4 linked regions of the Homo sapiens genome follow. The protein of the gene in region 1 interacts with the protein of each later gene in a pairwise test. Each region holds a gene or a part of one and is shown on either strand. Other genes may lie near its edges. The genes, in order: TRHR, C1QL4, FAM241B and SLC41A1.

Region 1 (5,483 bases):
CTTAGGTGTACTCTCATTCACATTGAATTTCCCTACTTCATATATAAATATTCCAATCCCTGTTTTAATTGCAATTGAGAAGTAAAGATGATATTAAATATAATATTTATAGAATTTATACATTGACAGGTTAACCACATAAAATCTTTTCCTTCTGAAAGTTAATATTTTCTCTTTATCATGTTTACAGGTTTAACATAGTTTAGAATGATATAAATTCTTTTATTCTTGAAGAGCCAACCAAAACTATGTTGACCCAACTTTTACTAAGACATGTTGTTCTTATTATTCCAACATAGTCTTCTGAAAATAAAACACTTCAAATATCCATCAAGACTTAGTTGTACTAAACTAAGTTTTATGGCTGTAGCTTTTCCTTTGACATTGCTAATTGTTTAGCCAAATCAGCCATTAATTTTGGTATATTATCAGGGTGTATTGTTCTGTACATTCAATTTGTTTAAGAATGACTGTAAAGTTTGGACTTGTCTTATTTTTCTTCAGCATTTAGAATATTTGCCTTGTATGTTAAGGTCTAGAAATATACTCACAGCCCTTAGGTCCTAAGAGGGAATTTATGTTTGTTCATTTTATTCATGATCTGTGCCCTTTACTCAATTACCTCAGGTATGATATCTAACCAAAGACCCTCAGCAATTAATGAAATTGGAAGTAACAAAAGAACACAGGGAATTTTTATTAAGGAGGGCTCTTAATAACATTACTTGATTTCACCAGCAAATTTTAAACTAGCTCTTTATTTCTCATTTGGTGGTATATTAAGTTTTGATTATTTGTGGAAATATTTTATGATTGAGTATAGTGTGATAAAGAATATTTTAAAAAGTTATATCTCTTCTGTGTAAATTCAAATATCTATTGGACATTATATAGGAACATTTAATTTTAAAATGGCATTTGCTTTAGAGTTAAAACACTATGAACTGAGTTCTTATGAATTTCCCATGTGGTCTAAAACTAACAGATTTTTGAGAAATAACTTTTTAAAAATTAAAGTGAAAGAATTCAGCCCATACATTAAATTTCCAAAGATAAGAAGAGCATCTTTGTATTCTGTGTATATCATGTTAAACTAATTGTATTTTTTAACACCTGATATAATCATTCTGCAAAATCCATAACTTTTTATTAATTAGGAATTAGGTCACAGGAATACTGGTCTAATCATCAGAGAAATTACAGCTGTAGTGAAATTGTGATGAAGATAATGTTGATTGACTACCTACCAGCATACCTGAGACATAGTCGATGCTCAATGATATTAGGTCCTTTCTGTAATGAAAAAATCTCGTATATTCCAATCCCCTTTTTCACCAATTTATGAACATGTGGGTATGTGTTTATAAACACACATGTGCTTGTGTGATTTGGGGTTGGGTCACTCTGGTGCTCTATTTATATGATGCCAAGATTAATATTTATACCAGAATGAAAAGTCAGTTAACATAGATTGCTTACTGTCATGCAGGTAGGGTTTTAGGGTATTTCCTGCAAATATTTGCTTGCATTCATTTACTGTTATAGTAACAGGATAAAAATGTCTTGCTGGAGTAGATAAGGCCAATTTTCAAAAAAAAAAAAGCGCACTCTAGAATGAGGTTCTGGATAGCATAGTCTCCATGAAACAGCACGTAAAAACAAGTTTCAGAAGAATGGTATATTCTTCATTAAGAAGATGGGGAGGCATAATTATCATTAGCGATTAGGTTCTAGAAAAGTCCATAAAATAGGGATATAGGCTGGAGAGGGAAAATGACAGCCTACGGGCATGTAAAGGTATGGGTACTTTTTTGATCTACTCATTAAAAATCAATGACTACTGAACCATCACCAAGGGCAATTTTTGCCCTCGGAGATTCTGGTTGGCCAAATCTCAATAGGTAAGAGATTCAGGTAGGAACTGACAAGTGTCCTGGACAGATTCATTCACAAGTCTCCAATAAACACTGGAATAGCAGATGTCAGTCATAAATATAAAGATGACATACTGATAATATGATGAAATCAGTTTTAACTCTGCTGAAAATAAAGCCAACAGAATTTTGCATTGCTTTTAGAATCTGTAAACAAAATATCACTAGCATTTGAGAAAAACAAAAAAAGAACCTACAAACAACAAGCAGATAGGAAGGAAAGACAATTGCAGTCAAGGTAAAATCCATAGACTACAATTCTCAGTGGGAGCTCTTTATCTGGAAGAGGGATACCAGGATTTTGGCTGACTTAGAATAACAACAAAGCTTTTAAGAATGTTTCAGACTTTTCAGCTAGATTTTGCTTGAATGATTTGCTTGACATGGCTGAGTAGTTTATAAACAAGAATGTTCAAAAAGATTTTATTGCTTAAAAGCGTCAGAGAAGAAGCAAAATCTAATTATAAATACTTGCTTTGTCTTGACTATACTTTTCAAATTTAATTGTATGTTAGTTTGTATCTTCACAGTTACTTAATCTGGGCTTTTGCCTTTTTCCACCCATCATGTGGGAGGCTGGAAGAGTTGATAAGAGTTGGATTTATCTTAAAATCTACATTTCTCCTTAATTAATAATTTCAGATATTTTGAGGTTTATTTTACATTAAAGTTGAGTGATGATTATCTACCTTCTAAGATATAAAAATCATCTCAGAATTTTATAAACATTATGGCAACTTTTAAAATACAGTTAACATGTATGTCTAAAATCTTATTTTTACTCAATAAATAAAATGTTTCTGTAATATTTTTCCCTTTAATTTCAGATATTCATGAACTAGCCCTGTACTATGTTAAAATGAATACTAAATGCAAACATTTAAAAATCTGCATGTTGTCAAATTATCGAATGTATAAATAAATTAGGGAAGTTGAAAAGTGACATTTGATAAGGTTACTATGAATAATGTAAATTGATGTCTAGATTTTATTGAAACTCTATAAGTCCAGAAAATATAGTGAATTTCTTAAGTTAAATGAAAAGGGCTAAACTTTAAGTTTCCATCATTTAGCTATTTCACAGATCTGCTCCATTTTTAGTGATATTAGTTTGTAAGAAGGAAAGTCTGAATCATCCTCATGGGTTAAAGTATCTAGGGCCAGAATTTGTTAGAGCATTGACAAAGACTGATCTGCTCTGTCTTCACATATGACTATTGGCCATGTTCTCCCTTTTGTTGATGACTGCACAGATTCTCATTTTCTTTGTCATCCATTTTCTTCTAATTCATGAATCAACTTTGGCTAAAGGATACCTCAGAAGCCAAGCAGGTGTCATCAAAAGACACTTTTGTGGCAGACAGGTAAGTGTCAGTGACAGTGATATCATCAAGCTCTGTGCTGAAATGGTCTGACTCCTTGATGACGCTGTAATTTAGGGCCACACTGTAGTTAGCAGGTTTCTCTGTTGGCTTCTGCTTGCAGTTGCAGAGCTTTCTGAAGGCTGCACGGAATTTCTGGGACATGAGATTGTAAATCACCGGGTTGATGGCACTGTTGAGATAAATGCAAATTCTGCAAAAGAGCAAAAACCAATTTTCTTGGAAAGGACTGGAGAGAAATGAGTTGACAACCACTAGAGTCCTGTAGGGCATCCATAAAAGGGCAAACAGAATTACAACCACTGCCAGCATCTTGGTGACCTAGGGAGAAATAGAGAGAAATGCTGTACAAACACAAATGAAAACAAAACAAAACCCCCTTTCTTCTCTCACCCAAACCTTTAGTTCCCAAAATGTAGTCTGAGACAAGGAGTTAGGTGCAGGTCATTTATTGGGGAGGTGATCCCAGGAAGCAGGATTAAGGGTTATCAATTAGAATGCTATAGACAAGGAAAAGCCAAAGTAGGAAAAGCCAAAGCAGTGTGTTATTGAGATAGCTCCCCCTATAGCCAACTCTGGCTCAAGTAATGCAATTGAGAATTATCTGTCAGAAGTAAGAGAATGAATGCCAGCGTCCATTCATTAAAGGATATTGTTAAGGACTTTAACTCCTGTGTACTTCCAGGATTCTCTTGCCTGAAAACTCCTAGGGCCTTTAGAGAGACACTTGAGGCCAAGAAGAGGAGAGACAAATGGTACAGTGGATGCCTGAAGTGGGATATTTCCCACTGCAGGAACCATCTACTGCAGCTATGGCTGAAATCAGAGTCTTGTAAGAGAATGTTAGCACAGGGCACCAAAAGTGTCTGTGACAAGCATTAGGAGACTTAGGGTCAAATCCTTTCCTTACTTACCCTATGTGTGGCCTAAGAAATTATCTTAACCTATCTTATAGCTCATCTGTAAAATGGAGCCAACATTGCCCTCCTAAATCAAATGAGGTAACAGTGCATGAAAAGAATAATGCAAAAAAGTCAGTGTTTATTGAATGTTTAGTGACTGCTATGTGCCAGACACTATCCAAGGTGTTTATTTGTTACCATGTTTAAAAAGTTTTAAACCTCCTAAAATAGGTATTGTACCCACTACTTTTTCAAATTAGAAAACAGGTACAGAGGCTGTTAAGTACTTTGGTGGAAGCTGTAGAGTCTCAGGGCTGGGATTACTGTCCAAGTGAGCTTGAATTCAAAGCTTTTGCACTCTTTCAGGTTAAAGGGAAGTGAAAGAGAGAGAAAGCAAATGCTGGAATTTTACCTAATGCTGAAGCCACTCCTAAGTATAAGCAATGCACAGGAAGTAAGACAATAGGTAGGATGAGGTCAATATCCCAGATTGCTCACTGTTCACTGAGCTTCATTCTGACTCAATGTATGTAGGATATTAAGGCTACGTATCTTACCACTAGGAGTAGAAAAATTGTTCAGTGAGAATATGTGATTTCACACTGGTTCATATAATACCAACTAAGACATTCCAGAGATTCTGACTTCTTTTAGAGCCAAAGAGGGTCTACTTAGCAAAGGGGTTAACTGAAACATGATTTTTCCTAAGTAGACTTTAAAAAATATATATAAGTAAATAATTAGTCATAGGAAATCAAAGTGATAAATGTTCTAAGCTTTGGAAGGAGATGTAGTGATTATCATCTTCATTGTCATCATCACCATGATCTTCGTCATTATGAACCACACCCTTGCCTTTATTCTCTGCTTGGTACTCCAGGCACTCTGAAATCAGATCACTGCTTCACACTTGTCAACATTCTCCCACTCCCTGTCAGGGGTAAAGCATCCTACATTGAAATACCTAGTTTAATTTACAATTAGATCTATACCATCACATTTTAGTCCTTTAAGATGGCCCAAGTAATCTGAAAAATGCCATATAAACATTATCTTATTTAATACTTATAGTAATTCCATGAGTAAGCTAGTATTCTTTTCATTTTGCATGTGAAGAAATTGAGGTTTAGGTAATTTATATGATTTGTCTACAGACACATGAGTAGTAAGTGACAGAGCTGTGATTCAAATCTGTCTACTTAAGACAAAGGTCATGCTCCTTCCTATATACTTTGCCCTTTCCATGAATGTTTCTTGCATTTTCG
Region 2 (8,823 bases), on another chromosome or scaffold:
GGATTACAGACGCCTACTACCACGCCCAGCTAATTTTTTCTATTTTTAGTAGGGACGGGGTTTCACTGTGTTGGCCAGGCTGGTCTCGAACTCCTGATCTCAGGTGATCCACCCACCTCAGCCTCTCAAAGTGCTGAGATTACAGGCGTGAGCCACCGCGCCTGGCTCAGTGGTTTCCATTCTTAAATTATTTTTAATGCATTTTCAAATTACTATTCTCATTTTAAAAATAAAATTTGTCGGCCAGGCGCGGTGGCTCATACCTGTAATCCCAGCACTTTGGGAGGCCGAGGCCGGCAGATCATCTGAGATCGGGAGTTCGAGACCGGCCTGACTAACATGGAGAAACCCCGTCTCTACTAAAAATACAAAATTAGCTGGGCGTGGTGGTACATGCCTGTAATCCCAGCTACCCGGGAGGCCGAGGTCGGAGAATCGCTTGAACCCAGGAGGCAGAGGTTGCCGTGAGCCGAGATAGCGCCATTGCACTCCAGCCTCGGCAACAAGAGCGAAACTGTCTCAAAAAATAAATAAAATAAAATAAAATTTTGCCTATAGGATAATTTCTAAAATTCTGAACCGGCTGGGACCTCCTGTCAGTCCTCATGGAGGGTTGGCTTCCCCAGTGGTGGGGCATAGGTGTGCCTGTGCGTGTGCATAGGGTGCGGGCCATGATAAGGTGCACTGTTGCGCTCTCGCCTGTGGGCGCGGATTTCCCGACCAAGCACCCACTGGTGCCCAGGCGTGGGGGGTCGTCTTCTGCCAGAACAGGGAGCACTTCCTCCCCTCCGGGCTCATGGCGGTCGCTTCGGGCCTTCAGCCCCCCTCTTCTAGAGAGTCCCACAGGGGCTGGTTATTAACTCATTAATTATTCATCATTATTCTAATCACTATTTACCGTCCCCAGGGCCGCAGCGCCCGCACTGAAGAATACAGAGTGGGAGCTGCGCAGTCCCCTCCCCCTCTGAAACCCGCACGAATTAGTTACACACTGGCCCCCTCCACCTCCTCCCAGATACCCTGCATGGACCAAGCACACCTACTCGATGTCATATACAGATAGACACCGCTCTACTCTCACATCGCACTCCGCACTCACACACACTCCCTGACACACATACATATTCTTTCACTCCATGAGGACGCACACTCACTCCCTTTCCCCGGGTTCCTGGGGCAGCCCGGCTGGGATGAGATCCCAAAGCAGGTCTCGGGGCAGGTAGATGCTGCCGCGGTACCAGGCTCCTGCAGGCCTGAAGCTCCTGGGTCGCCACCACCCCCTTCATGCTGGACATCCAGAGGTCACCACTCAGCCCCAACCTCCCTCTGCAGCCTGTGCAGCTCTGGCACCTTCTCCCACCTACCCCACACCTGCGGCCTCTAGTTCCCACTATGTGTGAAATTTTGGTGCTAGAGCTTAGTCCTTGGGGCTATTCCCCGAAAACAGAGGCAACAGTGACTCCAACTGCCCACAAGGGCAGGGAACTGTGGAACCTGGATACTGAGAGATTGCTAGGGAGGGTGTGGGGCCTACAAGACCAGGCCAGGGCCCAAGGCTATTCTACCTGTCCCTTGCCTCTTTCCTCCCCCAAATCCATTCATTCCAGCCACCTGGCTGGCCCTTGAGCTGCCAAGCCACAGACTCTGCTGAGGGCAAGGCCGTTCTAGGCCCCCAGCCCTGGGGTGAGCAACAGAACAGCTGATCGGCAGGTGAAGTGAGCAGGCAAATGTTTTCTTCCTTTTATACCTTTTCCTCAAACATCCAACCCGAATGCCCTCAACATGAGAACAGCTGCTGACTTCCTATTGCCTGAGACATGGATTCCATTCTAATTCGAAGGAGCCTAGACTCCAGTTAGCTGGTCCAATGCAAGGCTGAGAGACCCAAAGGCCAGGGGGGCTGCCGCAGAAGAAAGGATAGCCCAAGACAGGACGAGAAAAGAAGCGAGTTGGCAGGGCGAGACACCAAAGACATCTGGTGTTGCCCATAGTTGCAATGTGAGGTCACAGCTGCAGAGACACTCAGGTTTAAGTCCTGAGTTCTAATTCTAACACCATTCCTACACTCCGTGAGGCCCTAGGCAGAAGGTTTTCCTTCTCTGGCCCCCAATTTCCTCTGTGGGTAAATGAAGTCATCTATCGTTCTTGGCAGCCTCGCGTTCCTGGATTCAGTGACGCTGTTTCGGGGAATAATCTCAGGTTGTGGGATGAGTGCAGGGAGATCTAGAGAGCGACCAGTCTGAGCTGGGTTGGGGAGAGGGGCATCTCACCTGTCCGTTCTTCATGAGGTCGGCCCACATGCTGGTGCCGTCGCCGCCGCGCATGAGCACGTGGTAAGCGAAGAAGTAGACGCCTGGCATGGGGCAAGTAAACTTGCCGCTGGCTGCCTCGTAGGCGTTGCCCACGTTGGTCACCACGTCGTCGAAGCGCAGCACCTCGTAACCCTCGTGGGGCCGCCGCAGGCCCGCGTAGAAAGCAATGCGAGGCACGTAGCCGGCAGCGGGCGCCACCCCGCCCGGACCTGGACCGGGAGGGCCCGGGGGGCCTGGCCTGCCGGGTTCTCCTGGGGGCCCTCTTGGACCTGGTGGTCCAGGGGGCCCCCGCAGGCCTGCTTTCCCGCGCCGGCCCACCTCTCCCTTGGCGCCTGGCGGGAAGGGGGGCACGGAAGCAGGCGCGCCGTCGGGACCAGGGCCACGGGGCCCATGCGGGTCGCACACCATGCGGCAGCGACCCAGCATCTCGTAGTGCGCTGGCCCGCGGGAGCTGTGCACCAGCAGCGGGATGGCCACCAGCAGCAGCAGCACCATGGCCACTCCGACGGCCGCGCCCGCCACCCTCTTGCGGCGGCTCAGCCGCGACGCTGCCAGGGCCAGCAAATCTTCCTCACTCTTGGGCGCAATGGCTGCCGGGGCCGGGGCTCTCCGCGGGCCAGGAGGCGGTGACCCGCCTTGGGCCTGGGTCTGCACTCCCCCGACGGCTGCCCCCCGCTCCCCTTACCCTGCCTCTGCGGGCTCCAGCCGCGGCGGTGCCGCTCCCCAAGCCGTCCGTCAAGGGGAGGCCCCTCGTGGGTTACGTCAGGGGCAGCTCCCGACGGTCCAGAGCCAGTGGTCCTCTAGTACCCTCCCGTTCAGTCCTAACGATCCTGGGCACCTGAGATCCGCGGCTTCTCGGACGGCTGGTTTCTTAGGGATCTGAGATGCCTGCTCTCCAGACTGCTGCTCTCTCAGGGATGGCGCGGTGCCTGGGTCCCAGACTGCCCAGATAGACCACTCCCTGATGGAGAGGGGACTGCTCCCCGCGCTCCGGACGTCCCGGGCTCTGAGCTGCGGGTGCTGCTCACCGGGCGCGATCTCCTAGTAGGTTTTGCGCTCTGCCTCTTGGCAAGCACCGACTCACCTTGCTACCCCTGCCGCGGCCCCAGTCCCTGCTAGAGCCCTGGCCCGCGCCTCTCTCCTGCGGGCGCGGTCCCTCTCCGCCTCCCTAACCTTCCTCCCCTCCCTCCCGGGCGCGGGTGGTATGAGGCGCCGCGCGGCGGGAGCCACTATAAGCGGCCAGAGGCGGAGCGACCCCTGGTGCCCAGAGTGGGAAGTGCGGGGGCGGGGCAGGCAGCGGCCCCCACCCACGTCCTCCCCGCCTCCCCTCCACTCCCCCACTGCCCCTAGGTTCCTTCCCGGCTCTGAGCGGGTTCTTCAGGGTTTCGCGGCCCCCGCTGTATCTTTACTTTTACCCTTTACCCGGAGTTTGGCATTCTCAGAGGCCAGAGGAAACCCAAAACAGCGATGGGATAAAGAGGGGTCAAGATACAAACACGCAGAGAAGACAGGGGTAGATTCCCGAGCTAAAATGAGGGGGAGGGACCTCACAAACAAACAGAAAACAAAATAAGAAGGGCTAGAAAAGATAGAAATTCACCACCCCACGCACCTCAGCGCCCGTGACCGAATAACATGGTAAAGGATTCAACTGATACTAGTTGGCCTGAACTGGAAAAGGCAAATCTCTAGCCAACCCTACCCCCACCCCTCAGTATTGGGGCGCGGAGCGGAGTGTGTGTGTGTGTGTGTGTGTGTGTGTGTGTGTGTGTGTTTGTGTGGAGAGAGAGAGAGAGAGAGAGAGAGAGAGAAAATAAGAGAACAGATCAGCCCGGGGGAGCAAGCAAGAAACCGACAAGAAAGCAGAGAAGGAGCGACAGAAATCAAAGAGAAGGAAAGCTAGATAGAGATGCAGAGACAGAGACAAAGCTTCGAAAAGAGACGGACTGACAGCCCCAGAGGGGGAGAGGGAGAGACAGAGACAGAGGAAGAGAGACAGAGCCGGGACAGGTTGACAGATCGAGAGAGAAATGTAAATGGCGCGCTGCAGAGAGACACCCAGGTCCGTGTTTGGACTCCAATGTGACATATCAACTGTGGGGAAGATGCGGGGGCAGGGCGGCTCTGCCAGCAGTGCTAGGCTCTGGGCCTGTGCATTGTGACAGTGTGCTCCAAAGTGTGGAGGTGGCCATGGGATCCTGGCCCTGTGTGTCCCTGGGTGAGTGCGATTGTGGATTGTGTGTTGTCTTTGTGTATGTATATGTGAGGGCTGTTTGAAGGGAGGTATTTGTATTTGTCTTCCTCCTAGTCCCTCAATTTGGAGCCCACAAATGCCATTTTTCCTACCTTGGGACTGAGAATGAAGGACTCTACTGGACAGAGAGGAAGTCAGAAGACAGCTGTCTTCTCATTTGCCCTGCCCAGCTCAGCCCAATGCCACCCCTGCCCTGGTCCCAGACTTATCCAGTCCCAGGAGTCTCTGCCCCTTCCTCCTTCTTCAAGAGTTTGTTGTTAGATGAAACCCAGAGAAGTTGGATCCCACATAATGGGTATTTGGGTGGGGGTTGAAGTTGGCCATGCAAATTAATGTAAGTAAAATGCAGATTAGGTGCTAGGCACCCTCCTGTAAGAGGGGACTGTATCTGTCTTTCCGAGCGGCCAAGACATTGCTAGACACAGGCATTGCTAGATCAGAGTCCAGAGAAAAAGCTACTGGCTGCATCCTCTCTTAGGGCCTGGGCCTTCTGGGGAAAATGTCTTGCTCACAGGGACCCCAGAGGCTAGGAAAACAGGTTCTAGGACTGGTAAAAAGTGGGGGCATTTGGAGACCCTGGAGGTGAGCAGCTGCAAAGGCCTCTTAGAGACCAGGATAAGCCAGGACTATCATGTATGGGAGAACATTGTGTAAGATGGAGGGCACAGGGCACACCAGGGCATGATTATTGGATGGAGAGTGATTTCCTCCTCTCTTGTTTTCTGTACTCCTTCCTTGCACCCCCGACCCCCGCCTCATAATGATGCTGGGAGAGAGAGGTTCCTAAGGCTGGGCCTGTGTTGGGGGTTGGGGGAGGCCCCTACATGTCTGCAAGGAGTGGGAGAGAAAGGATTGGCAGTCAGTGGGGGAGGGGCCTCCTCCTCCAACCATAAATACAAATTTTATTCAAGGTCTTTGTCGCCATTTGTCTTCCTCGGGGGGCTGAGGGCCGTGTCAGCCCTCTGCATGTCTAATTCCGGATCTGCTCCCCCAGGCTGGATGATGGATGGATCAGAGAGCAGGCCCAGGCTCACACCAGCCTCCCCTGCCTGATCCTCAGGCCCCATCCACCCCAGGTCCTGACTCCTCTCCCTCCCTTTTCCCTCCCTCCACTCACCAGAGACCCCCTCTGCCCAGCCACACTCCTCACTCCACTCATTCTACTCACCAAGGTCCCCTTTTTAAGTCCCTCACCTCAGCCCCTTTCAGGTCCCAGTCCTCTTCTCTCTAGAGCTTCCCCTCTCCTCCCATCCCCAGCCCAGGCTGTGAGATGTGGTGACCAGCAGGGCTGCAGGCAGCAGCGGATCTGTGTGGTCGGGGGAGCCGGCTTGGCTCACGGGGAGCTGAGGGGCCAGCTCCATGAATTTATTCATGTTCTGTTGCTCTTTTCCCACACTCTGGAATGAAGCTGCCAGCTCACCAGGTCCTTATTGCTTCCCCTGCAGCTGCCACATTCTGCCAAGAAGGGACCTGGGTGGGGCCAAGGCCAGCCTGTGCACCTTGGGCCAGAAGCCAAGTGTCTGGGCTCGAGGCAATGCTGGGGCCCAGGCCAGGGTCTGGGACAATTTTCCCAGAACTCCTCTGGCAGCCAAACTGGGAAGCCCCAGGGAGGTGGTATGGTTGGGAATGGGAAGTAGGTAGAGAAGGGTGTGCTGCAGGACAAAGAAGGGGCAGTGGAAGTGGGGGGCAGAGTTGGCAGGGGGAGCGGAGAGGAGAGGAAGCCTTTAACAGTTTCCTAGGCTCCCCCACTTAAAGGTTAATGCAGCCTTCAGACAGACCAGTCTGTCCTTGACTCTGCATTAGCCTTGACCCTAACCCCTATTTATATACTCGACTCCTCTTCAATCCTAAAATGAATTTTAACTCCATAAACTGACCCTAAATGGAATGCCTCCCTCACCTGTCCTGGAACCCAGGGGGATCCCCAGAATCCCCCCCAGGGCTATAGCTAGGTGTGTGTCAGAGTTCTGAGGACCAGACTTTGGATTAGCATGTGATTAGCATATGATTTGCATGTGATATGTGCCTTCTACTCTGTGGAAGTTTTCATGTTAAAATTTTATGAAGTCTAGTGGAAAGGTCCTGGCTCCTTGAAAGTTCTCTCTTTTTGTTCCTTCTCTCACACTTACTGTCACTGACCCAGACCCCCTCAAGGGAAGAAAGGGGGTGAAGAGGTGAGCAATAGAGGGCCCTTGGGAGGGAAGGCTCCAGCAGCATGATATGCCTGCATCACTTGAACGTGCCTCAGTTTCCTCATCAGTAAGAGAAGAGAAACCTCCTCGCTGCCTGACATTTTATCAAGATCTAAGGAAACACTTTTTTTTTTTTCCTTGCACTCTCTCCTTCCTCCCCTTCAGGGCCCGTCACAGTGTGGTTCTCCCTACTCATTCCCACACTCTGGCTTTCAACTCCCACATTGAAGATCACATGGATCTGGAAGCAGCCTGGGTTGCCTGGTAGCAGTCCTCTAGTATGAAGACAAGGGAATCCACGTGAGAGGACAGGGGACGGCATGGAAAGGGAAACAACATTATTGAGTCCTTATTGTATTTTAGGGCTTTAACATGCAACTTCTCGTTGCATCCTCACAGCACCCTTTAGAGTTAGATCTATTGTCCCCATTTTAAAGATAAAAAAACTGGGGCCCAGAAAGGGGAAATGGCTTGTCCATTATCACCCTGTAAGGGATAGTCCTGGAATTAGAGTTATGACCTCCTGGCTTCCTTCTCAGTTCCCTAGAGGAGACAAATGGCACCCAAGGCAGTGGAAGAGTGAGAGAGGCAGGCCAGGAGTGGGCAGTGAGATTTGAATGGCTTCCGGGAGCCTTTTGTATGTGAGGCCAAAAGGGTTGGGTCTTGGCTCCGTGTATCCCCCAACCCCCACCCTGACACTGTTAAGCATGATGCCCAACAGGTGCTCAACTGTTGGCTAAAGGATGGCCAAAGTTAGTTTCAGAGAACAACCGTCCAGATGGAGGAAGAGAGGGCAGAGAAAAAGGAAGGCAAAGGAAAACGAAGCGAGTCAAGGAAAATTTGCTTAAGGGACAAAAGGGAAGCCTGAAGCCGGCTGTTCTCCGACTGCAGCTGGGAAAACCGTCCCAGCCCAAGAACCTGCTCATGGTTTGCCTCCTTGCAGAGACTACCCTCCTGCCTCTGCCATCACGGCCAGGCCCAGGGCTCCCACTCATCAGCCAGTGCCTCTGGCACCAAAACTCAGTGCAACCTTAAGTTCAAAGTATCGCACCAGGGTCCACAGGGCTGAAGACAAGCTCCTGGCTTCTCAGAGAGTGGGTAAAGACTGCTTCCAAGGTGTCTGCCAGGTCAGAGCTGTTGCTGACTTACTTCGGCAGCCCTCCACCCCTGGCCAGGTGCTGCTCCTAGCCTTTGACTCCTCCACCTCCCTTTGTGCCCCCCTCTGCCTCCACCGCTTGCCAGCTCCAGCCTCCAGTTAATGAAATGTGGGGATCGGCTGCACAGAGAGCTGTCAGACCCCTCATTTCTCCTCTGGGATATTGACTCCGGGTCTGGGAGACCCACAGGTGAAAGGAGGCGGGTGGGGTGCGGGAAGTTGAGGTAGGGGCGCATACTGATGAGAGCCCCGAGACCAGGAGGTAGTGCTAAGCTCCAAGTCTCGAGGGCTCGGCTAAGCGAGGAAGGCCCTAGGATGCTCTTTCTGCTTGGGGTCCCCAGCTTTTCTCTGACGAGCAGGACACTTAACGAGCCCCAACCCACCGCACCCGGACCTGGACCCCGAACTAGCACCCCAGGCGGGCTGGACTTCAGTGAGCGCCGCGCGCAGCGCCTCGGAGCCAGAGACCGCTGCCCGGTGCTTCCTCCCATCTTCTTCCATCCCTTCCCTCTTGCTCCCCCTCCCTCCTGCACTCCCTCCCCGGCGGCCGCGGCCTTTATTAGGGATTCCGCGGCTGTCGGTCCCGCCATCCATCCTGTCCGCCGGCAATTAGGCGGCCAGACAAAGAGCAGCTTCGGATGGATGAGGGTCCCAGCGGATCGGAAATGTGAAGGGTCAGCGCTGCCGCCCGCGGCGCACCCCGCTCCCCCTTCCGCATAATCACCGGCCGCCCGTCACTCAGCCGGCCGCCCAGGGAGCTCCTGGGCCCGGCCCGGGAGAGGGCGGGGTGCGGCTGCAGCCTAGGCGCCCAGGACAGGGCGAGGGCGGACCTGCGGCAGGAGCGCCTCCTGCGGGGCAGTGGAGGACTGTGGCCTGAGGCATTGGCCGAAGGGTGGGGGATTATGGCCC
Region 3 (6,807 bases), on another chromosome or scaffold:
AAAATAGAAACAGAAGACTCAGTGAAGCAGCGCTGGTTCTTTGAAAAGATCAGTCAATAAGATTGATAAACCTCTAGCAAAAGTGAAAGACACAAGATAGAAGACACAAGTACCAATATCCGGAATGACACAGGGATATCAGTGCCTGCCCTGTAGCCATGTGACTCGTTCTTCACAATGGAATGTGAGGGAAGTAATATGTGCTACACCTACAATACTTTTCTTTAAAAGAAATCACTAGCCCTCATTTCTTCTGTCTCACCTTTCCATGAGCTGCATATGGCGAAGAAGTTGGTGAGGCAGTTTTGACGACGCAAATAAGGGTGGCATCCTAGGGTGTAGGGGAGCAATAAGCTAGGAAGAGTGGATGTCCTTGGCTGGCCTTGTGAAGCAGAGCTGCCCATCTACTTGATTGAGTCACTGTATATTTTTTTTGTTCCAGCAGCATAGCCTGTACTCAAGCTAATATATTACACCTAGGTGGGTTTATGTCTTAGGGGACTTACATACTTACATATAACCAAGATATTGTGGGGCCACTCCAGTCTTCTGACTATGTAAGGTGTTTTCTGAGGCCTCCATCAATCCTCTGGTCCCCCATCATCTGTCCATGGATGAGGGCCATCACTGAACCACCCTTCATACCTGTCTACCTGACCCTTTCAAGTCCAGCAATTTTCCCACTACTACTACTACTACTACTACTACTACTACTACTACTACTACTTACTACTCCCTTGTCATTGCTGGAGCACAAGAATCCTTCCACCACACCTCAGACACAATGGACCCAAGGATTTCCACAAGGCCATATAAGGCCCTACCTGTCATACTCACTATCTGGCCATTCCCTTTCCCAAGCCTCATGCCCACCTTTGAGATCCAGCACACAACACCTATGCTCCCATCATTTCCTCCTTTCCCAGTGTTTTCTCTGAAGAGGCCCCTGTCATACTGTCTTCCATGGCCACAGGCCTAAGGAGGCACCAACAGTGGGCACTGGCAAGCTAGTGCTGCCTTTCTCCCACACCATTCTCTGAGTAATAAACACAGGCATAGTGTCTGCCAGAGTAGGGGAAAGAGACAGGGGGAAATAGCAGGAGAAAGAGATAGATAGATTAATATATTTAAAATGACATCACCATTATCATCATGCCATTCTCTTTTGAGGCAGAAACAGTTGTTCCCACCTGCAGAGTCAGAGAACAGGCCAGGACACCTGACTTAAAAATTATGACCTCTGCTATGAACAGAAAACCAAAAGCACATTTTTATTGACCACATGTTGGGGTTAAGGCATGACCCAATGCCCAATCTTGTGCTGATGGCACTGGGGAAGGTGGGGGCACAATTGTAAAGAGGCTGCAGAGCTGAGATGAACTCAGGGGAGTCTGTTTGGTGGATGCAAAAGCCTGGAATGCAGAGCCCGGGGACCTGCCTTCATTTGAACGCTGGCTCTGTCACTGACCTTGGGCTCATCATCTACCTTGTCTCTGAGCCTCAATTTCACCTTGGTAAAAGAGGAATAATAACACCTACTCTTTCTATTTCATAATCCAAAAAAGAATGAAGTGGTCTCTGGGAAAACACTTTGGAAGTAAGGACTCTGCACATATAGGGGTTATTATTATTATTACATGAAACAATCACGTTTGTGGATGAAGGGATTTAGATTGGGTGGAGCTGGCCTTCCAGCAGATATTCAGGCCCAAGCAAAGCAGGCCTTTGGGTGATCTACTTCAGGGAAAGCAAAGAGGCCAGGTGGGCAGAGCTGAGGGAAGGAGTTGCTGACAGTGTGCTGGGGCTAGAGTTGGAGGGTTGTCAAAGCCTTGCCAATGAGTTGGGGCTTGTTGGAGCAGACAGTAGGGACCATTGCAGGTTCTTGAGCAGGAGAGACACCTGAAGAAGGTGGAGAGATAGCAAAAGTGGTATGTTGCCTCCTTAGGCTATTTTAGTTGGTAATAATAGGCTATTTCTAAGTCCAGTCAAGCACTATCACTTCCCACCCCAAAGCTGTTCTTGACTTTTCTGTAGGGACTTGCTTCTTCCTCTCGACTCTTACGGTTCTCTCCAGCTGGAGTGTATCTCTCTGGCAGCAGTTATACCAGCTCAAATCTTCCTGAAAACATCCATGATTTTCTGCCTGTATCCCCTGGTTTCCCAGCCCACAGAGGTTACCTCCCTCTTGGGGCTCCTGAGTTCCGTGACCTACTTATGGGGTTCTGTTCATGGAAGGCAGTGTTTCTCGGCCCTAGCTGCTCATTAGAAGACTGGTTTTTAAAATGTCTCCATGCACAGATTGTAACCCAGATCAACGACATTGTGATCTCTGGGGTGGAACCTAGGTATTGGGATGGTTTCTAAACATTCCAGGTAATTCCAATGTGCACATTGCGATTTGGGATCACAGGCCACCTCTGACAATCGGGCATCCTGCCTTGTGATTACTGCTTTCATGCGTGCACTTGGCATACCTGGAACACACTGGGGTGTGGGGAGAAAGCACTAGGATTTTGGTTTATATTTACTTTACATCCTATGCTTTTAAAATGTGCATGCTTTACAATCGACTTGATAGTAGAAGAGGTAATGATCATAACAGTCAGCAGCCGTTGAGCATGTACTGCAGCCAGGCTCTCATCCAAGCACTTGACACGAAAGTGCCAGAAAGCAGTCACACCAACATTCAAACACAGGATGGCTCCAGCAGCCACCTTTTATCCATCATGCCAATCTGTTCTCACAGTACACATGTGTAATTTAGAAACAAACAAAAATAGTAACATATAAATAAGATACAGATACCAGAGCGACCCGTGAAACATTTTTTGCTGATAAGGTTTCATGATCAAATAATCAGACTATGGTGGCCGACTATGAGTCCTCCAGGCCAGGTCTAAATCTCTCTCTTAGTTTTGTTCCTTCTGCCCAGCAGCTAGCAGAATCTGGGTTCTAATAAATGCTCAACAAATATCTGCCACTCCCACAAACATTTATTAAATGATAATCATAGCTAACGTTTATCAACATTGCCAATGTGCCAGAGACATCATACTTAATCTTCACAGAAGTCCTGTAAGGCTATGATTACACCTGCTTTGTGACACTGAGCAGCTAAGTAACTTGCTAGAGTCCAGAACCTGAACCCAGACTGTGGGACTGCACAGCTCATTCTCCCCCACTGGTGAGCAGGTCCACAGGGAGCAGCTTATGAAGGTGGTGGGGGAGAAGTGGATTTTAAAACATCAGGAAGGAGGCAGAGGTGGATCATTCACTCCCTGCAGGTGGTTCCTTCTGCCAAGAGTGACCTTCTCTATCCTTACCTACCCTCCTGCCCCAGCTCAAACGCATCTTCTCCTGGAAGCCTACAGAGGGTTCTGCCCCGTTCCTGCCTCATCTTCCCCACTGAACTTGGAACTCCTAGAGGGCAGGGTTGGGTCCTACTCAAGGGGCATCCACGGAGCTGGGTCAGCAAACATAACACTGGTCATCTGAGCCTGCGCCCGCCCTTCCTCCCAGGCCAGGGCGCCCCCACCCCCTGGGTTTTTCCTCCGTGGACGCCGCTTCCTTTTCCTTCTTTTCTCCCTCCTCCTTCTTCTCCTTCTTTTCCACGTGTCTTCTCCTCCCATCCTCTTTTCTCTCCATCCCCACCTCCCACTCCTTCCCACGCCCCATCTCCCCGACCCCCAGCACCCCGCGCCGCCCCCAACCCTGGGCCGGGCAGGTGCAATTCCTCAGGCGGCCTACAGAGGGCGATGTGCGCCGCCACTGGGCCGCGCCCCTCCGGCGCGCGCTTCCTGTGAGGTCAGGTGGGAGGAAACCGCCTGGAGCCGCCGGGAGTGGACGCCGCCGAGGCCCGGAGTCGCGCCTGCAGGTGAGTCGCCGCGCCGGGGAGGGAGCGCATCCCTCGCTGCAGCCCGGGCCGGGACTTGGAGCCGGTGTCGGGCTCCAGAGGCTGGGGCTGGCGGCCGGGGCAGCGTCCCTCCCGCCCCCGGCCCGGAATGTCAGGTGCGCCGCGGGCCGGGCGCGCGGGTGGCCCACCGGGCGGGGGCGCGATGACAAAGCACAAAGGGACTGCGCGCGACCACCATCCGCTCGGCCTGCGCCAGGGCCAGCGGGCTTCAGGAGGGGGACGCGCCTGTCCCGGGCTCCAGGCTACGGGCAAGACCACAGGGCTCCTGACCTTTTTCGGCATACATGTCACCAGTGCTATCTGGAATGTAGGTGGACACTGAGGCTCATCTCCTGAGAATGAATGGCCTTTACCCAGACTCAAGGGGAGGCGTGGAGGGGCCCCGCAGTCCAGGGGTCCGCGGAGTGGAGCCTTTCGAGGGCCACCGCAGCAACCCCCTCCCATATTTTGGGAAGGCTGGGCCCTGCGCCCGTTAGCCAAGGTTGGACTGGTGTTCCCTGCGAAGTGAGGGACAGGTGAGGGGCGTGCCCTCTGCAGCAAAGGTGTGCTCTTCCGAGGCGCATGATGGCTAGGATGGTCTGCCGCTACCAGGCAGTGGTTGTAAAGTAACCCCGAAGTGACCCTCATCTCCCTGGGTGTTCCTGGGGAAGGCCCAGGTGGTGACATTGACTCCCTGGGGGAGCAACACACTCGACCCATTTTTTAGTGGAAGGGAATTGGAACCCCACTGGGGATGCTGGTGCCCTGGACTCCCAGTTTAGTACCCAGGGAGGGCCCTAGAACCAGAGCTTCTGGCCTCGTGTTCCTTCTCTGCTGTCCGTAGGTGTGATCCCGGGCAGGCCACTTAAGTCTCCCTGTGCCTCCGCCTGTGCAATGGCCGCGCTAGTACCCTCCTCGGGGGAGTGTTGTGAGGCTTGAGTGAGGTGAGCCTTGCAGGATGGGCCTTCCACGGGGCGTGGGCCACAGCAGAGGCTCTAGTCCCAGTTGTGCTGTTGGCAGTGTAGTGATTGGCAGTAAAACTTCCTTTGCCAAGGATCTTTTTGATAGTTTTCCTGGTGGACTCAATGTCTGAAATCTTTTTGCCTGGCAAACAACTTGCCTTTATTTCTCCCCTTTTTGTTAATCAGACACAGCATCTACTCAGCGTGGGTCACCTCTGTGAACATCACTGACTGCAAGCCTCCCTCAATTTCTGGTAAATTTTTTCCTTCAAGCTTTTTGAGGTCAGGGGGAAAATCCTCCACAGATCTTCACGAGTCTGGTCCCAGATCACTAACAGCTAAAGGTTTTGTGGTGGGGAGAACTTCTGTGCCACTTGGCTTCCATTAGCCTGCCCACCCTGACCACACAATGCAGGTGCAGCCCATCAGGGACCCACAGCGCCTGGGAGGATGGTGCGGATCTTGGCCAATGGGGAAATCGTGCAGGATGACGACCCCCGAGTGAGGACCACTACCCAGCCACCAAGAGGTAGCATTCCTCGACAGGTAGGTACTCATTTCCTGTGGAGTGGGACAGATGGCCTCCTGTGTACTGGCTACTCCTAGCTTCCAGAAGTCTCTCTTGCTGGTCACTAACCTTTTCTAGCCTGAAGCCCTCTTTGCAGAGAGCTGGGGAAGATGCAGTGGCTTATTGTCTACCTCCCCAGATCTCCTTTCTCCAGGCGCCTCCCCAGACTTCACAGCCAAGAGCTCTCTCTCCTTTAACTTGGTTAGCAAACCTCACTGGAGCTAGCGTCTTTCTTTTAAGAGTGGGTTGGATGACAGAAGCTGGAGAGGAAGTGGAGGAGATGAGCCCTGGGCACAGAATAATCATTTTAAAGGGGTGGCTGGGCGCGGTGGCTCACACCTGTAATCCCAGCACTTTGGGAGGCTGAGGTGGGCGGATCAGGAGGCCAGGAGTTTGAGACCAGCCTGACCAACATGATGAAACCCCATCTCTACTAAAAATACAAAATTAGCCAGGTGTGGTGGTGCATGCCTGTAATCCCAGCTACTCAGGAGGCTGAGGCAGGAGAATCGCTTGAACCTGGGAGGCGGAGGTTGCAGTGAGCTGAGATCGCGCCATTGCACTCCAGCCTGGGTGACAGAGCGAGACTCCGTCTCAAAAAAAAAAAAAAAAAAAAAAAGAAAGGAGTGATGATGAGTATTAAAAATGCTGGCCCTAGAGCCATGCCCTGTAGTCCAACCTGCCTCAACCACTTCCTCTCTCCTCTGTCCTGGGCCTGATGTGAGGAATATAGACTGGCATGTTCTGTGCTCTGAGAGCTTGTGACTTGGTTGTTGGGATTCTTATGGGTGGCATGGGGGATTGCTGAGAAAGGAGGGTGTGACCCTGGGTGGCTGTAGGAAGGGCAGGATGCAGCCTAGAGAGGTTGATTCCTGGCTGGTGCGTCAACCCAATGATTCATTCATCTCTCTCTGTCTTCACATTCCAGAGCTTCTTCAACAGGGGCCATGGTGCTCCCCCAGGGGGTCCTGGCCCCCGCCAGCAGCAGGCAGGTGCCAGGCTGGGTGCTGCTCAGTCCCCCTTCAATGACCTCAACCGGCAGCTGGTGAACATGGGCTTTCCGCAGTGGCATCTTGGCAACCATGCTGTGGAGCCGGTGACCTCCATCCTGCTCCTCTTCCTGCTCATGATGCTTGGTGTTCGTGGCCTCCTCCTGGTTGGCCTTGTCTACCTGGTGTCCCACCTGAGTCAGCGGTGACCTCTGAGGGCTGATAGGGGTGGGTTTGTTGAGAGGGACTTGCTGGGCCTTGGTGTGAGAGCAGGCATATTTGGAGGGGATCTGGTGGTGCCTTGAAGGTATGATCAGAGAGGGGACCACAGGTGTGTGTTTCCCCTTTGTGTTAAGCGTGAGGCAGAGGGAGACGTTAGTCCAGCATTTCCAAAGT
Region 4 (8,766 bases), on another chromosome or scaffold:
TGTGCTGACGTCGTCACTTTCGTTGCTCTGGCTCCCGTTCTCCAGCAGGGCGTCCTCCTCCCGAACCCCCTTGGCGTTGGCCCGAGACTCAATCACCACCTCTACCCCAGCCCCATCAGGCCCCAGGAACTCTGAGGTCCCAGCCAAGGGCTCTCTCCCTGGGCCATCTGAAGAGCAGGGAGAGGCAGAAGGGCCAGTCCCGTTCAGTTGGTGGACGTCCTTCGGCTCTGGCTTAGAGGACATGACAGGCACGGAGGAGGGGAAGGGAGAACTTTCCTCTCTTCTTTTTGCTTTCTCTCTTCTTCTCTAACTTGGGAAAGAACTTAGTCTTGGGGTGAACCCAGGCTTGGGCGCCGCAGGACCTCTTCCCACGGCTCTCCACTCCTACCAGGCACTGCAAAAACTGATCCACCAACAGGCAGCCCCATCAAGCACTGAAGCCGCAAGCTGGGAAGAAACAAGAAATTCCTCACCAGACAGCCACTAGGGGTGCAGATGCCTGACTCCAACCCACCAGCTCTGTGCTTGAAGAAAAAGTATCTGTCCTCTTATCTTCTTTGGTTCTCAGTGGCAGGCTCCTCAGAGCAGGGGGCATCCAGAGTAGAAGAGCTCAACCAAATTCTGGGGTGCCCTCTGAAGTGGCCCCTCTTCCGTAAAAAGCAGCTTGAGTTCAAATCTTTCAGAACACAGTGCCAGCCTGGGGCTGCGGCTCCTTCCCGCTCCTTTGGCTGGGCTCTGTCAGCTTCCCACAGCTCCTCAGGCTCTGCTGGTCCCAGCGCAGCGTCTGCCGTCTTTCCCTTCTCTTCCAGAAACTTCCTCCCTTCCTGGGAAGAGCTAATACCTCTTCAAATCCCTGGTCCTTAAAGTCACGAGAATCAGTGTGGAACACCTTATGTGGGAAGGAGAAAGAAAAGAAAAAGAACATTACACTATAGCAAAGGACAGCTTGTACTGGGAGAATTTCCCCCCAAGGAAGTTAGGAGTTCATCATATAGCTATAGAGTTTGCTATTTGCCTCCCTTTTTCCGCAAAAATTACTCAGTCCTGCACTGCTCCATCTGGAGGCTCAGCAGGAGCTATCCCCGCCATCCTCCCCACCAGCAACCCTCCTGAGGGATCACCACCGTGGTCACCAGCAATGAGATGTGACCAGCCTGGGATTGGGAAGATGCTGTGCAGAAGCCCTCTGCACTGTTTCCTCAGCAACTGGGGGTGGGTAGGTGTGTCCTCAGCAAGACCCCTTCTTGAATGCCCATTAAGAACCCTGCATTATTTAAGTGGGGTTCAGTTACAAATTCAGTCACAAACTCCCTGCCACACAGCCACCCCTGTATAAAGTGACTGCTTATCATCACAAGACAGCAACAGAAAGACAGCCACACAGGGCAAAGAAATAGGGAGAAACTGATTGCTGAGTGAAGTCCCCCAGACCCCAGATCGTTCTAGCTTCTGAGAAAACAAAACAAAGCTAGGAGGACTCCCTGGGCAGTGGGGCAAGCCTGCCAGACCAAGGCCAAGAGCCAGAGGCCTACCCACTCCTGCCCTTGAGAGTCAACAGTGTTACAAAGAGCTCAGACAGCTGACTCGGATCCAGGCCTCTGTCTCTCCCCGTCTCCCCCTGCTCTTGGCCCTGTGAGCTTGTCAGATAGGACAAGGGAGTTATCTCAGTTAGAAGGGACAGAGCATAAAACGATTGCTTATTACCCACGCATTTCAGTTAATTAGGCTCCTCCTGTTCCCCAGGGTTACTGAGAGTTGGATATAGTGGAATTCTTAGAAACAAAAACAAAAAAACAAAAGTAGCAATAAAAAAAACCCAAAACAAAAACCAAAGCACCGTAAGCCAATATGCACTTGCTCCAAATGCATCTCTTTAGCTGTAATGGCTCCACTTCTCTGCCTAAAGGAATCCCCAGGCTTCCTAATTCCTGATGGACTCCCATCCTATTCCATTTCACCAGAAGAGCTCTTATTCGTAAAAAATAAATTTAAAGAGAGTTCCACCAGGTAAGAGGAACAGGTCCTTAAGTATTCCAAACACACACAATTAGTCAAGTTCAGTTTAGGAAAGGAGGTATCAAACCCCAGGAACTGGCCCAGGAGAACTGTTTCCTCTATCAATTCAGTCACCCACCAGGACTCCCTTTTCCAATCTCCTTAAACACAGTACTGTGGTTCTTTCAAACTCCCTCACCAGAGATCCAGGAGGAAACCTCTGAGTCCAGTGCCCCTATGCCAGAAAAGTTTCTGAGTCCGCTAAAAGCTGACACCCCCGCCTCCCTCCTGTGTTCCTGGCAGGCCACTGAACCTGAGAGGGGGCTCCCAGGAGGGGAAGCCAGTCCTCCCTCACCACTCCCCCTGTAAAGAGACTTCAGACAGGCCTAAGGCCCTGGGACGAAAGAAGCAAAAGTGAACCAGGACGCCCTATCCCCTCCTCCCAGGCGGGGACAAAAAAGACCCATTTTAGTATCCCCAACCCCGAGGAGGGAGAGAAAGTAACTGGGTGGCCTCCTCAGTCTCTCCACCACTCAGATTCAGCAAATGCGCTGCGCGCCAGGACTGCCGCCCTCCACCACCCCCTCCCCGCCCCAGGACCCCACAGGACTGACCTGCCCCTCGCCTGGGAGGAAGGGGGGCGCCTGGCAAGTGGCAGCGTGGCCCGTGGTCTCGGGGGGTGCAGGGCACCCCCTCTTCTCATCACTCCTCCTCGACAGTCCTCCTTGGCCCCCGGCGTGCCCCCCCACACCCCCAGCCAAGGCGAGCGTCCAGCCGCGACACCCGGCTCGCTACATTTCGCTTCTGCGTTACAGCGAGGCCGCCGCTCCGCTTCCACGCGGGGGAGGTGGCCGGGGAGGGCAGGATATATCGCTTCGGGCCCGGCGGGGGGGCACCCGGACGGGGGACCGGGGAGCCGAGCTCACGCGCCCCCAATCGCTTCTTGCCCGCGGACTCGGGCCCAACTGGTTGGCTGCCGGTGGCAAACGTGATCTGGGGCAGACTGGGTGGCACCCCCCCCGCTCCATCAAAAATAGATTCTCGGATGGACAACAGCAGCAGCCAATCAGGGACTGGGGAGGGGGCGGGATCAACCTCGGCCCGGCCCCCTTCCTTCGCTTCGTGCCCAGGAGGCGGGGCGCCGGGGAAACGCAGTAGGAGGAGTGACGGGAACCGGGAGCCGGCTCCATGCGCCTGGAGCGCGCGGGTCCCAGCGCCCATCGGCCCGGGGTCCGAGGGGCCCGCTGCCCGGGCTCGCTGCGTGGTGCTACCGCCCCCGGGCCCGCTGCGCCGCGTCGGAGCCCCAGCAGACTTTGAGAGGCGTGTGCGACAGTGCGCGTCCTCTCCTGCCTCTGGATGTTTCCTTGGAGCCTCTGGCCTTCGGGAAGACCGGTAAACGTCCCTGTGGAGCCAGCCAGCCAGCCACCTCTGACCCCCGGGCTCAAGCAGCCAGCCGCGTGCTCCCTCCTCCCACTTGGTACCCGGACAGAACAGTCCCTACCTTGCTCTTCTCCCGCCGGCTCGTCACTTTAGGCTCCCTCCAGATTCCGCGTTCCTTGAGCAAATGGCTCACCCCTGACGAATCCGGCCTTAAAAAAGTCCCGGCCTTGAAAGGGGTGGAGACTGGCGGGCGGGAGCGAAAGGAGGTCAGACCCATGGCTGGGGTCGCACACGCATCACCTGAGGTCGGAGAGGAGGGGAGCCTCACTTCCTCTGACCCACTGAGCCTGGTGGCAGCGTGCGGAGAGATGTCACCATCCCGGACTAAATGAAATCCAACTTTCCCTGACGCACCTTGTGGGATCAAAGAGGGGTGTTCCCATGCTCACCTTTCGCCACTTCCTCCCTGGGGTATCTCCACCTCTCCAACACAAGCTCAATGCCAGTTCTCTTTGGGATGTTTTTGTGCAGGGGGTGTGACCTCCCTCATAAAGGAACCCCCACTCCCAAGTTTTCCCCTCTTGTCAGTGGAACCTGTGACCAACGGTTCCTTCCTGTCCTTTTCCTCCCTGAAAGTAGCCCGGGGGCATTCGAACATGGCTCTAGACCCCTGAATAGGGTTTGGAGCGGAGATGTGCCTGGGGAGAAGAGATCGCAGTGCTGTGTATGAAGCTTTGGGCACGTGCTCACAAGAGCACACACAGCAACCTGAGCAGGTCATTCCTTTTGATAAGGATGACAAATACACATACCAAACCCTGTTCCCCTCACCCACCCCAAACCAGTACCCCCAGGATGATTCCAGATCAGCTCTGGAGCATTTGCATCAAGGGCCTGCAGACTCACAGGACCTACTAGAGCAAAATATCAGTGTCTCAGACCCCAGTTTTGGCCTCAAATACTGGGTTTTTCTGCCAGGAGAAGTAGCTGCTAGTCTAGGAAATGCTGGGACTTGTCCAGAAAGATGAGGTTTGTGAATACGGGGTGTGGGGTTGGGTGGGGAATTAAGGCTGATGTATCTGGAGGAACTTTGGTTGGGCTGGAGGCAACTTCTGCCCTGTTCTATTCAACAGTTCCCTCCCCTCCACTACCCCATTTAATCTGGCCACAGCTCAGCTACCTGTGTATAAAATCTTGATCTCTCTCCTATTTCCTTTCTACCTTCCGTGTTTTTACTTACTCGAAAACTGTTCCCCTCTCCTGTGTGTATTTTTTTAATTGAAATATACCAGGCATTTAGGAAAGGAACACGAAACCTAAGTGTACAGGTCAACAAATGATGACACAGTGAACACCCCCATATGACCACCATCCAGATCTAGAACGAGATCATTATTGGCATCCCAGATACCCTCCTTCTATCCGCTCCTGGTGACTATGCCACACTCCTTCTCAAAAGTAACGTTTATCTAACACTACAGGTTAGTTTTGCTTACTTCTGAACTTTATATACATGGAACCATTCAGTAGGTATTATTTTGTGTCTGGCTTCTCTCACTCAATACTATGTTTATGAAACTCATCCAAAACATTGTGGTAGCAGTAGCTTATTTGTTTTCATTGCCGTACGGTATGCCATTAAATAAATATACCACAATTTATCTGTTATTCTGTTGACGGACATTTTGGTTGTTCCTACTTTGGGGTTATTATGAATAAGGCTGCGATAACGTTTTTGTTCATGTCCTTTGGTACACTTACGTTCATATTTATACTAGATATATACCTAGGAATAGAATTACTGGGTCATAAAAGGATATGCATATTTTTAGCTTTAGCAAATGCGACTAAACAATTTTTCAAAGTGCTCATATTAATTTACACTCCTGCCAGCAGCGTCTTAGTGTTCCAGTTGCTCTATATTCTCATTAACACTTGATATTGTCAATCTAGAAAAATTAAAAAATTTAGCCATTCTGGTGGGTGTATAGTGGTATTGTAGTTTAAATTTGCTTTATCCTGATAACCAATGAAGTTGACCACCTTTCCATGCATTTATTTGACCCTTGGATATCTGTTCAAGTATCATGTCCATTTTCTATTATTCTATTCCTTCTGTCTTACTACTTTTTTTTTTTTTTTTTGAGATGGTATCTTGCTCTGTTGCCTAGGCTGGAACCTCTTGGGTTCAAGTGATTCTCCTGCCTCAGTCTCCTGAGTAGCTGGGACTACAGGCACATGCCACCATGACAGGCTAATTTTTGTATTTTTGATAGAGACAGCGTTTCACCATGTTGGCCAGGCTGGTCTCTAACTCCTGACCTCAAGTGATCCGCCCGCCTTGGCCTCCCAAAGTGCTGGGATTATAGGTGTGAACCACTGAGCCCAGCCCTGTCTTACCACTTTGTAGGAGTTCTTTATGAATATCAGATACGAGTCCTTTGTTGGTTATAGGTATTGCAAATATTTCTATGAGTAAATAAATACAAAAGCCCTTGGTTTTGGTGTCTTCTGAAGTGTCAGGGCCACTGGAACAAGAATATAATCTCTATATCTATTTTGATCACTAGTGTAAACCCAGCTCCTGGCACATAGTAGGTACTTAATAAATATGTTGAATGAATGATGGATGAGGTGGATAAAGCTGATGTAGGTACTTTGCTCTGTATTGTGCTGATCCCTAGAGTCAAACACCAAGAGGACCTGGGGGAAGCAGATTTCCTCTGGCTTAGCCAGCTGTGACCTTAGGAAGAGGAAGACATCCTGGCCCTTCTCTACTGAAAGAGCAGAAATAGCTACAGTCTGTGAAATGATGAGCACAGATGTAGGGAGCGGAGGTCACAGATGAAAAGACAGGAACTACCAGCAAGTAGCAGGCCAGCCAGATACTTCAGAAGGAGAGACGCAGTTGGGGGTATCAAAAAGATAGTGAGGGTCTCTGAGCATCACTGTGGACCTTTGTATGACAAGAACCTCCAAAGGTCATGTGGACTCTCTCTTGCCTCAAGACATGCCCAGTCTTTGAGCTTGTTAGCCAAGAGAGCTCTTCCACACCTAGAAACACATTTCTTTCTCCAAAGGAGGTTCCCTGAAACTTTGGTTGGAGGGTCTTATTCCTAACCTGCATTGGGCAACTCTTTTTTTAAAATCAGCTTTAACTTCCTCATGGCCTGTAATGTCCATCCTGAATATGGAAGACCACCGAATCAGCCTCTTCTCCATGCACTGTTTTCATAGGCCTGTTGCATTCTACAGCGTTTTTCTCTTGCTGTGTTTCTCTCCAGCATCCTTGACCAGCTCTGGTCAAGAGTCTCACTGATTCCTGTTACTCTGGGAGACAGAAATTTCCCCTTGCACCACCCTAACAAACTCACAGCATCCCCTCCTCATGTCTTTCAGAACATAATGTGGCATTTAACTAGAAGCTAGTAGTAGCACCCCAAATTTTTATATAAACTGAGCTTGGGGACGCCATCTAGTTGGAGAGAGGCTGGGTGACTTGTCATGAAACATCATTTGTATAGCAAGCACAGTGTTTTCATTTAGAATATGAGCATATGTTGGGTGTGGGGTGGGAAAGAGTGTTGTGGCAAAAGGAATTGTTGATCACTCCACAGGCAGGGGCCTGTGGAGGAGCCTGTGTGGGAAGGTCCTCTGTGGGGCAGCATTCTTCAGTCTTGCTTGGCACTTGTCCTAATATGTGGTTAATTTAGCCTCTATCCTGAGGTTCTCTTAGCCCCATGGCCTTCCTTCTGGGCCAAGTACTGTCTACCAATGGCTTCTCCATAGACTACCTGAATACTCATCTTGAGACATCATAAAATTCCAGAGCCCCATAGATCCTGGACCCCCTAACCAGCATGGCTAGTTGTAAGACTAGCCTGACGTGGCTGGAAACTTTTCTATCTTTTGTTCTGTGGGGGAGGGTGCCCCCTCCCATTTTTCCCCTTGCTGTGACCCCTCCGCTGCTCCCTCCCTCCCAGAGGTCAACTTCTTTCCTGCTGCCCAGAGCTGAGGTGACATCCCCTTCCGGCTTCATTCAGTTTTAGGAGGATGTAGTGATGGGGGTGGGATAGGGAAGTGTGGCCATCTGTGCTCAGCACTGTCATCATTCCCTTTGCTTCTCTATAACTGAGCTCCCTTTCCCCAAAGCCCCCTGGATACCCACCCTGGGATTCCCTTAGGCAGGATGGTTCCAGGTATTTGGAGCTGCAGCTCTGAATTTACTGAGTATAGCTGGGAAGCCTTGACAGCAAACAAAATGGTCTGGTGAACTATAACTGGGGATAGAAAAGTAATCTTTGAGAGGCAGTGCTGCAGAGTGGAATATGCCACAGCATTGTAATCACATGGATTTGAATCCATGAATGGCTCAGCAATTCATTAGGCACATGACCTTGGGCCATGTCTATCAAATGGAGACATAATTCCCTTTCTGCAATATATGTTCCATGGTGAGCAGTTCTATGCAAACCTACCCCCAAAGTCTGAGAAAGCTCAGAGGCCAAAGAGGCTGACAAATCTGGTTTCTTGAAAGAAGCATTTAATAGGGACTTGCGAACAGAAGCCCTGTCTATATCCCGGACAGCAGTAAGACCAGGGCTTGAATACCTTATAAGGAAGGAATACCTATACCTTACAGGGAAGGAATGTGTAGGACAATTGTAGGGAAAGGCGAGAATGCTATGTGAAGTTCCCTAAGGGCAGGATTTATGGTCAGTTGTTTTAACCTAAGAGCAGGATTTATGATAAGTATATGGTCTTACCAAGGAATAGTAGATAAAATAGAAATCTTAGAGGCATTTCCAGAACTGGAGTTAATCAGAAGTCAACATGGTGGATTAGCATCCAAGATGGAGTTGCATTAGCCTTCACAGATGATGAGAGGATTAGGATAATATAGCATTTGGAACATTCCCTGCACGCAGTAGGACTGTTAAGATCTCACCAAAGAGAAACAGCCAATAAACAGGGATTAGGCACTTGGAACGGGCAGCTCAGGCTTTTTCTGGGCCTCACGTGAAATTTTAGACTTCCCAGAGTGTGAGGGCATGCCTACCTGGAAAGGGTTAATGATGGACAGTCTCTTACATAGATGCAGGTAGGAGCTAATAGGGGCAGCAACCCCACAGTGGGTCACAAGCCAAAGATGAGCAAACTTTATCTTGCAAGAGCCAGGATGCAAAAAGACTGTATCTTGCAAACCAGATTACCTAGTTTCAAACTGCCCTCTGTGTTTACTGCCTACTGCTCTAGGATTATCCTCTAGACCAGGGTTTCCTAAACTGGCCTGGTCATAGGAATCACCTGTTGGGAACTTCTTTTAAAATATAGATTTCCAGGCCTCTTTCCTGGAAATTCTGTTTCCAAACGTCTGGTGCTGGGCCAGGA

Evidence for each region.
Region 2: the proteins of TRHR (region 1) and C1QL4 interact in binary tests that used the Homo sapiens proteins (3 or more experiments, as listed by UniProt).
Region 3: the proteins of TRHR (region 1) and FAM241B interact in binary tests that used the Homo sapiens proteins (3 or more experiments, as listed by UniProt).
Region 4: the proteins of TRHR (region 1) and SLC41A1 interact in binary tests that used the Homo sapiens proteins (3 or more experiments, as listed by UniProt).

The regions. Positions count from the first base shown.
Region 1 is NC_000008.11:109,117,202-109,122,684, reverse strand, and holds the end of TRHR (thyrotropin-releasing hormone receptor), read right to left. Parts: intron 3,638-5,483; coding exon 3,230-3,637; 3' UTR 1,120-3,229; downstream 1-1,119. UniProt on the Homo sapiens protein: Receptor for thyrotropin-releasing hormone (TRH). Upon ligand binding, this G-protein-coupled receptor triggers activation of the phosphatidylinositol (IP3)-calcium-protein kinase C (PKC) pathway.
Region 2 is NC_000012.12:49,333,671-49,342,493, forward strand, and holds the start of C1QL4 (complement C1q-like protein 4 precursor), read right to left. Parts: upstream 3,519-8,823; 5' UTR 2,808-3,518; coding exon 2,271-2,807; intron 1-2,270. UniProt on the Homo sapiens protein: May regulate the number of excitatory synapses that are formed on hippocampus neurons. Has no effect on inhibitory synapses. May inhibit adipocyte differentiation at an early stage of the process.
Region 3 is NC_000010.11:69,626,440-69,633,246, forward strand, and holds the start of FAM241B (protein FAM241B), read left to right. Parts: upstream 1-3,807; 5' UTR 3,808-3,874; exon of another isoform or gene 3,875-4,197; coding exon of another isoform or gene 4,198-4,220; intron 4,221-4,264; exon of another isoform or gene 4,265-4,836; intron 4,837-5,040; coding exon of another isoform or gene 5,041-5,108; intron 5,109-5,269; coding exon of another isoform or gene 5,270-5,304; coding exon 5,305-5,400; intron 5,401-6,350; coding exon 6,351-6,620; 3' UTR 6,621-6,807. UniProt on the Homo sapiens protein: May play a role in lysosome homeostasis.
Region 4 is NC_000001.11:205,810,199-205,818,964, forward strand, and holds the start of SLC41A1 (solute carrier family 41 member 1), read right to left. Parts: upstream 3,001-8,766; 5' UTR 2,610-3,000; intron 892-2,609; exon of another isoform or gene 890-891; 5' UTR 244-889; coding exon 1-243. UniProt on the Homo sapiens protein: Na(+)/Mg(2+) ion exchanger that acts as a predominant Mg(2+) efflux system at the plasma membrane.